Linked DNA regions of Homo sapiens. The protein of the gene in region 2 purifies or fractionates together with the protein of the main gene of each other region. This does not show direct contact. Each region holds a gene or a part of one and is shown on either strand. Other genes may lie near its edges.

Evidence for each region. The genes of interacting proteins can lie anywhere in the genome.
Region 1: the proteins of TAS2R50 (region 2) and HK3 purify together in Homo sapiens (affinity purification with mass spectrometry; one large-scale study listed by BioGRID and IntAct). This does not show direct contact.

What each region holds. Positions count from the first base shown.
Region 1 is NC_000005.10:176,881,504-176,885,846, reverse strand, and holds part of HK3 (hexokinase-3), read left to right. Parts: coding exon of another isoform or gene 1-21; exon of another isoform or gene 22-36; intron 37-1,029; exon of another isoform or gene 1,030-1,103; intron 1,104-1,712; coding exon 1,713-1,808; intron 1,809-1,977; coding exon 1,978-2,077; intron 2,078-3,719; coding exon 3,720-3,903; intron 3,904-3,999; coding exon 4,000-4,155; intron 4,156-4,311; coding exon 4,312-4,343. UniProt on the Homo sapiens protein: Catalyzes the phosphorylation of hexose, such as D-glucose and D-fructose, to hexose 6-phosphate (D-glucose 6-phosphate and D-fructose 6-phosphate, respectively).
Region 2 is NC_000012.12:10,984,928-10,989,421, reverse strand, and holds TAS2R50 (taste receptor type 2 member 50), read left to right. Parts: upstream 1-2,509; 5' UTR 2,510-2,561; coding exon 2,562-3,461; 3' UTR 3,462-3,509; downstream 3,510-4,494. UniProt on the Homo sapiens protein: Receptor that may play a role in the perception of bitterness and is gustducin-linked. May play a role in sensing the chemical composition of the gastrointestinal content.

The sequences.
Region 1 (4,343 bases), on a different chromosome or scaffold from region 2:
CCTTTTGATTATTCCTTGTAAGATGTGAGAAGCAGGTGAGACTCCATGTGCAAATCGGGGGGCGGGGTGGGGGCAAGAAATATAGTCTTATTAATTTTCTGTAACTGAACTTAATTTCTGTGCTGAAGGCTGGGCGCGGTGGCTCACGCTTGTAATCCCAGCACTTTGAGAGTCTGAGACGGGTGAATCATGAGATCAGGATTTCAAGACCAGCCTGGCCAAGATGCTGAAACCCCATCTCTACTAAAAATACAAAAATTAGCCGGGCGTGGCAGTGTGTGCCTGTAATTCCAGCTACTCGGGAGGCTGAGGCAGGAGAATCACTTGAACCCGGGAGGCAGAGGTTGCAGTGAGCTGAGATTGTGCCATTGCACTCCAGCCTGGGCAACAGAGCAAGACTCCATCTTAAAAAAAAAATGTTGGGCCCACATTATTTTCAGGGGTGAAAACTTAACCAGTGTGGGGATTGCCTTCCCCAGGAGCCCCTTTGGCTCTGCAGCAGCCTTTGCTGTGCAGAATTTGCAGGGATGTGGGAACTCAGGGAGGTGCCCCGGGCCCTGCTCTTTGGGCACTTGCCTCTGCCACTTCCTCTCTTGAGTCTCGACACCTTCCTGTGCATTATCTGGGGAAGGAGGGCAGAGGCCTCCTCTGTTCTCAGATTTCTCAGATCCCTTCTGAACAGGGGTTCAGCCCAGTGGGGAGGGCATAGGACACCTGTCTCAGGAAGTCATCAGCAACCTGGGTCTGACTTCCCCCTTTGCCTCCCCTTCCCCACTCTAGGGAGAGCAGCCCACACAGGGCTCTTACTCATCATCTGGTCTCTCTCAAACGGGTTCTTTCTCTCACTCTATCACATTCTCTGCTTTCTGTTTTTGAGACAATGAGCCTAGGACAATAAAAAACGGGATAAAAGGACATATTATTGGAGGAAAACGTTGCTTACTATTTCTAAAATCTTCTGCCCCAAAGATTTCCTGACCTACCCTCCATGCTCCTCCTCTGAGCAAAGCAGTAATTTTCTCCCAACAGCTGTAGACTAATTCCTGCTCCCCCTGCCCCCTCCCTCAGAGGACGCACACTAAGAAAACAGCATTCCTTTCCAGGTAAAGTTGAGCCCCGTGTCACTAAGTTTAAGTCCCTTTTCTCACAATCTGGGCACTCAGCCTTCATCCTGCCCAGGGGCCTGGGTTCTGGCTTTTCCATTCCTCCTGCCCCTGCATTTGGAACACATGAGTGACTCGCCCATTGACACGGCTCTATCCCTGAAGCTGAGAATTCCTTCCTCTAGAGTAACTTGGAGTTCTTTCTGAAAGGGTGGGATCTGCTGTCATCTGGGCCTCTGAGCCTTCTCTGTCCTCCCCTGTCTCACACACAGCACTCACTTTACCAGCTCTGTTAATTCCTAACCCAATTACAAAGGGCCATTCCTTCCGGGCACACGTCTTAAAATGGCCAGACCCTCTGACTGTCTGGAACTAATAATGGAAAATGTAGGTTAGATGGTTATTAATAGGTTTTTGCACACCGAAAGCCTCCTGGGGAGTAGGGAGCGGGCAGAGGGCAAGGCCTTCAACCATACAGCAAAGTAGGCAAGGAATTGTGCTTGGGGAGGGTGGAAAGCCTAGGCTTGTGATGGATGCAGGTTTTGCAGAGGCAGAGTGAGCCTGAAGGGGCCTCCAGCTTCCTGCCACTTCCTCTCGGTCTCACCCCAGGGCATCCTCCTGAACTGGACCAAGGGTTTCAAGGCATCAGACTGCGAGGGCCAAGATGTCGTGAGTCTGTTGCGGGAAGCCATCACTCGCAGACAGGTAGGAGCCTGTTCTAGGGGTGCTTTGGGGCTGTGGCAGGCCTTGAGGGGAGCAAAGAGTCTCCTACTTTCTGAGGGGGGAGCCCTCTGCGGTAGAGACCTCTGGGTCCAGTGCTGGTTGCTGTGACGACCGCGTTGCCCAGCAACTAGCAGCATCCTTTTGTGTGCAGGCAGTGGAGCTGAATGTGGTTGCCATTGTCAATGACACGGTGGGGACCATGATGTCCTGTGGCTATGAGGACCCCCGTTGCGAGATAGGCCTCATTGTCGGTGAGGAGGGCCCTGCCCTTTCATGCCCCTACTGCTTGGCAATTTGCTGCCTTCTGTTGATTCCTCTGGTTGGATGTTTCCTTGGCGGTGGGGATGTGGGATTGCTCTGGTCTGACCCAGTAGGGCTCTGGAACAATCTCTTGGGCTGGCAGTTTGGAGCTTGGGTGTATAGTCCAGCTCAGTGACTGACTCATGGTCATTTAAGCTCTCTGAACTTCACTTTGCCCATCTGATAAATGAATCTGAGCTTTGGAGTTGTACAGATTTGGGTGGAAATACTAGCTTTGTGTTTCCACCTGTATGACCTTGGGCAAGTCACCAGAGCCTCAGTTTCCTCATCTCTAAGATGGAGATAAGAGTAACAATGCCTGTCTCAAGGCATCATGAGGATGAAATGGGAGGGGACAAAATACAGCATGGTCCCTGGCTCATGGTACACACCTGGTGTTTGGAGCTGGGCGGGGGCAGGGGACCAATGAGCAATGAGGGTCCTTCAGACAGTCCAAGATTCCATCCTTATTAAGCACCTACCCTGTGTCCACAGGGGACTGGACAGAGGAATAGGAAGACACATAAAACAAGAGGCAATTTCTGCCTTCTCAGAACCGACCACTCAGCAAGGGTTAAGCCCAGAACAACACGTAGCGGTCAGAGAGTGACTTGATTCTACACGTGGGCAGCAGCGAGGCCAAGATCAGGAAGGAGTGGGTCCCAGGATGAGTGGAACTTGAAAGCCCTGAAAGAAAGGATTTGGCTCTGTTGGGGAGGAGGGATCCCACAGCTCCTGGGGCATTGGTCTCTCAACACGAGGCATGTGGCAGCCTCTCTTGAGGGGGAGGTTTTTGAACCCAGCACCTGGCACGGTTAGGCACTTGGGAGAGGCATGCCCAGGTTGCTGTGTGCATAAACAGCTGGACAGAGGAGCTCCAGGTGGGGCCAGCAAGGAGCCCACCTTCCTGGAGCTGAAGCTGTGTCAGAGAAAGGAAGGAGACGCCCTCATCCAGGGTGCGTCCTCTGCCTGGAATGCCTTTTTCTTTCTGTGCTTCTTGGATTCAGTCACTTCCTCTCTGTTGCTTTCCTGATCCTGTTGGCAGAGACTCGCCCCGTGGTCTGGGCTCCCACGATGCTCTCCTTGGTGCTTCCACGGGGGCACAGAGGCTCTGTCAGAGCTGGCTATTCATTGCCTGACCTCTGGCCAGACTGTGGGGCTCCTCGTCTCTGATTTCTCTGTGTCCCCTGCTCTTGGCCCAGCACCTCTTAGTTGGATTAAGGGCCTGGCAGGCCGGTCCAGGGAGCTTCGGCCTCTCAACCGCAGAGAGCTAGGGGCGAGGGCGGGGGATGTCACATGTCTCCCAGGGGAATGACAGGACAGCTGGGCATTGTAGGAGCACTTGGGGGTGGCATGGTGGATGCACTGATGGTGATGTTGGTGGGAAAGGCAGTGAAGGTCCCCAGGGCTTGGAGCTGGCAGGGTCTGCACGAGGGATGTCGGGAAGGAAGAAGGACCAGGACCAGGGACAGGCTGTGAGCATGAGAGGTAGAGAGAGTGAGCCCGAATCGTTGCCATCTCGGTATGGGAAGTGCTCAGAGGGTCCTTGTCTACATCAGTAAGTAGCTTCCACGTTGTCTGGCCTCTCTGCAGGAACCGGCACCAATGCCTGCTACATGGAGGAGCTCCGGAATGTGGCGGGCGTGCCTGGGGACTCAGGCCGCATGTGCATCAACATGGAGTGGGGCGCCTTTGGGGACGATGGCTCTCTGGCCATGCTCAGCACCCGCTTTGATGCAAGTGTGGACCAGGCGTCCATCAACCCCGGCAAGCAGAGGTGTGGGCTGGGCCCAGGCAGTGGTGGCTGGCTGTGACCGGTGCTGGGGATGGTGGCTGGTGGGGCCTTCTGCCGAGTGCACACATGTTCATGCAGGTTTGAAAAGATGATCAGCGGCATGTACCTGGGGGAGATCGTCCGCCACATCCTTTTACATTTAACCAGCCTTGGCGTTCTCTTCCGGGGCCAGCAGATCCAGCGCCTTCAGACCAGGGACATCTTCAAGACCAAGTTCCTCTCTGAGATCGAAAGGTGCCTGAGGCCTACATTGCCTCCCCCACTTCAGGGGGTCTTTCTGTCCACTGTGGGGGATTGCTGGCCATGGGTGGTGACGAGGTCTGCTCTGGAGGATGAAGTGGGAGAAGTCACGACCCACCTCCCTGTGCTCTCTTCCTTCCTGGCCCCCAGTGACAGCCTGGCCCTGCGGCAGGTCCGAGCCA
Region 2 (4,494 bases):
ATGAAAGAATGGTCATACTAGAATTATTCATAACTCTTCAAAAAAGAAACCCCCCAAATATGTATCAACTAAAGATGAATGAATCATTACAACACATTCATACAATGGAATAATATAGAGAAGTGAAAAGAAATGAATCACATAAAGATGCAAGTATGTGAGTAAATTTCAGAAACGTAAAGGTGAGTCCAAGAAGCCATGAACAGGAACATACAGGACTACACCTACATATGGCTTAAAGGTTTAAAGTAGGTAAAACCGTATCATAGAGTTTAGGGTTGCATACCTAGTTGTTAATGTATAAAGAAAATCAAGGCCAGGCGCGGTGGCTCACGCCTGTAATCCCAGCACTTTGGGAGGCCGAGGCGGGTGGATCACCTGAGGTCAGGAGTTCAAGACCAACCTGGCCAACATGGCAAAACCCTGTCTGTACTAAAAATACAAAAAGTTAGCTGGGTGTGGTGGCATGCGCCTGTAGTCCCAGCTACTTGGAAGGCTGAGGGAGGAGAATTGCTTGAACCCGGGAGGTGGAGGTTGCAGTGAGCTGAGATCGCGCCACTGCACTCCTGCCTGGGTGATAGAGCGAGACTCTGTCTCAAAAAAAAAGAAAATCAAGGAAATGATCATTCTAAATTATGGCTATTGCTCTCCTCAGGGTATGTGAAGAAAGGTGTAGGGGCTTGGAGAGTGGCATGGAGGTGGACCTAGGCTATTTGCAATGTGACATGTTTTGCCCTGCTTGATGGTTGCATGAGTGTTTATGACACATTGCTATGTTTACCATCTTAGTTTTCACCCATTTCTAAGTGTGCATTATAATTGTATTTAAAAATTATTAACTGGAAAAATGCTCCATAAAGAATATTAATTATTCTGCTCATTGTATACCTTGCAAAAAATTCACCATTTATACACATTTTTATACAACTCTTAGAGAGTTGAAGTAGGAACTTTATTTTAGCTGCAACATATGGAAATTTCAGATGATGCTACCTGCAGCACACAAATCCTTTCAAACATTTTTTTATTACCTTTAATTATCTACCTCACATGACAAAACTTTGCCACTCCCCATCTATTTTTCTTTTGGCTCCTGAATTCCTGACAAAACAGGGGCAAATATATTTCCCCACACTCTTGGTGTAGCATAGTAGCTGTACCAGTTAGGTTTTTCTACTAGAGAAACCCTCCAAAACTACGTTAGATATTTTTATCTCATATATCTTTGGATTCAGGTTTTCTAAGCTGGGTTTGGTGGATAGCTCTGGTGACTTGAGATGGGCCAAGTTCTGCATCTTGGAGCTAGTTAGACTTTGGCCAATTTAGGATGGATCAAGTGCAGGCAAACTGACTCCATTAGTTTTCATTCTCATTCTGAAAACAGTGTACTAGCCAGGTGATAATCTCATGATCAATGGAAAAGAGCAAGAAACCCCAATATGGAAGCCATCTCAAACCTCGGTGTGAAATCTACCAATTTTCTGTTCATCAAAGAAAGTTGTGTGAGTGAGCTCCGAGTCCAGGGGACAGATAATCAACCTGCTTATGGTGGGAGGATACTGCAAAATTATGTGTCATAGGGTGTGGTACTCAGGAATATTTACAAAATTGTTGAACATTTTAATTAAATAATAAATACTTAAACATTAAATAGACTTGAGAGTAAGTTTACCAAATGCTTAAGCATGAAAGATATGTTTGATGTTTGATACATTTTTTTGGGGGGGGTCTGAAAACCCTCAGTTTTCACTGGGAAAATAGGACTAATTTCACGTGGATGGCCTCCAGGAGACTTACTTCCCATTTTGGAAAGTATAAGAAAATAATTCCTTCCATCTCTTAGGGGTGTCACAGTCTCTCTCTCTCTCTCTCTCTCTCTTTCTGTGTTTGTATCTATTTATGAACATGGTAACAATAAATTCACACAAAAGTATTGGGTTAGCAGCAACCAGATTTTAAGGTGTTTTGGTCTTCTTATGGTTCCCAAGAAAACCTTGGATGATTTTGATTTAAAAGTTTGGATTCTGTCTGTTTAAATGTAGCATAAATAGTAAATCCGTTATGGTGGTGATCCTAGTTATGACTAAGGTCTTTTAAAGAACTTAGACATTTACTGTATGAACGATGGACTCGGGGGTAAAATTTCCCTATCTAACAGCTGAAGTTGCTGAACACAAATTACGTATCGGTTAAACAAGGAAAACATTGCAAAATATTGAAAGAGAATATGTCTTTATTTGCATGCTGGTAAATGAAAATTTAGGTTTCACTTCAACTTCATTATGAATAATTCAAGCCCATCACAAGAACGGACATTGAATGAATGAGTTAATTTGAGCTGTTTTGAAAATAAGAATGTTTTCCGTAAAGATGACATCAAACTCATCCATTAGCATAAGCTGGTACTTTCTTGTTTGACACTGGTCACAGTGTTTAAAAGTAAAAAGAATGTTACTGCACATTCAGAAATCAGATGCACATAAAATTTAAGGTCAGAGTATTAAAGAAATCACAACCAGTGATATTAGGCTTGCATTTTCTTTCTTTTTTTCTGCTCAGATATGATAACTTTTCTATACATTTTTTTTTCAATTCTAATAATGGTTTTATTTGTTCTCGGAAACTTTGCCAATGGCTTCATAGCACTGGTAAATTTCATTGACTGGGTGAAGAGAAAAAAGATCTCCTCAGCTGACCAAATTCTCACTGCTCTGGCGGTCTCCAGAATTGGTTTGCTCTGGGCATTATTATTAAATTGGTATTTAACTGTGTTGAATCCAGCTTTTTATAGTGTAGAATTAAGAATTACTTCTTATAATGCCTGGGTTGTAACCAACCATTTCAGCATGTGGCTTGCTGCTAACCTCAGCATATTTTATTTGCTCAAGATTGCCAATTTCTCCAACCTTCTTTTTCTTCATTTAAAGAGGAGAGTTAGGAGTGTCATTCTGGTGATACTGTTGGGGACTTTGATATTTTTGGTTTGTCATCTTCTTGTGGCAAACATGGATGAGAGTATGTGGGCAGAAGAATATGAAGGAAACATGACTGGGAAGATGAAATTGAGGAATACAGTACATCTTTCATATTTGACTGTAACTACCCTATGGAGCTTCATACCCTTTACTCTGTCCCTGATATCTTTTCTGATGCTAATCTGTTCTCTGTGTAAACATCTCAAGAAGATGCAGCTCCATGGAGAAGGATCGCAAGATCTCAGCACCAAGGTCCACATAAAAGCTTTGCAAACTCTGATCTCCTTCCTCTTGTTATGTGCCATTTTCTTTCTATTCCTAATCGTTTCGGTTTGGAGTCCTAGGAGGCTGCGGAATGACCCGGTTGTCATGGTTAGCAAGGCTGTTGGAAACATATATCTTGCATTCGACTCATTCATCCTAATTTGGAGAACCAAGAAGCTAAAACACACCTTTCTTTTGATTTTGTGTCAGATTAGGTGCTGAGTAAAAGACCTGAAACTCTCAACTCTCTAGATTCACAAGTGGGACATTGTGTGTGTATTCTAGGAGAAAACAAACTGATAGTGTCTGGAACATTTTATACTTTTTACTGTTTTTTCTGTAGTGTATGTTTTTGAGTATTTTCTGAAAGCATACCTAGAAAAGTCTTTTACCTAAAGTTAGTCTAAAAGTGTATCTATGTGTGTGCATCTGTATATGAAAGACTTAAAAGACATTGACAATAACATAATGTTAATCATATTTTCACAAGATGCCAAATTATAGAAAATATGGTAAGAAGTTTTTCAGAATCATGAACCCATGTATATTTCACATATACATTTCATATTATCATGTTTCACTTGAAAACTGTGTGATCTTTACTTATAATTGTTAAGAAGTGACACATTATCTCAAAATCTTTGCTCTTTTCCACTGATTTTTACCACACATATGTACCACAGTGTGCTTAAACATCTAAATTTTTTGATAGTAAGCACACTCAATTCTAAATCAATAATGAGGTTTCATCTTTGGGGTAGTTTTTATTTCATCATGAATTCTAATTTTATGTTTAGTTTATAGCCAGCATAATTATTTTCAGAAAAAGATGCACAGAATAATATTCAAGGATGACAAATATATTTAGAACACATTTTGTATATGTCTACCATAAACAGTACTGAGGAATAATAGACTTAATACAAATATGTGAACATTTGAGAAAAAAGTCATTTCTATAATAAGGATGAAGAAAGAAACACCGTGATGACTTATGTTGTCATAAGTCTCAACATGCAGTTAGAAAAGTCATTTCTTCCAGTTTTTGAGTTAAAGAAAACCTTTTTTGAAGTTGAGATCTGATGTCAAGTATTTCAGGTTTTTTTTTCTAAACCACCTCAGAGTCCCTGAATTGCCAATGATCTCCTCTATCTTCCATACTTGAAATTCTTTTTAAACTTCACATAAAAGAACTTGAGTCTTCCCTACCTTAGAAAAATACTCTATGTAAAAATAGTATAGAAATTATAAAAAT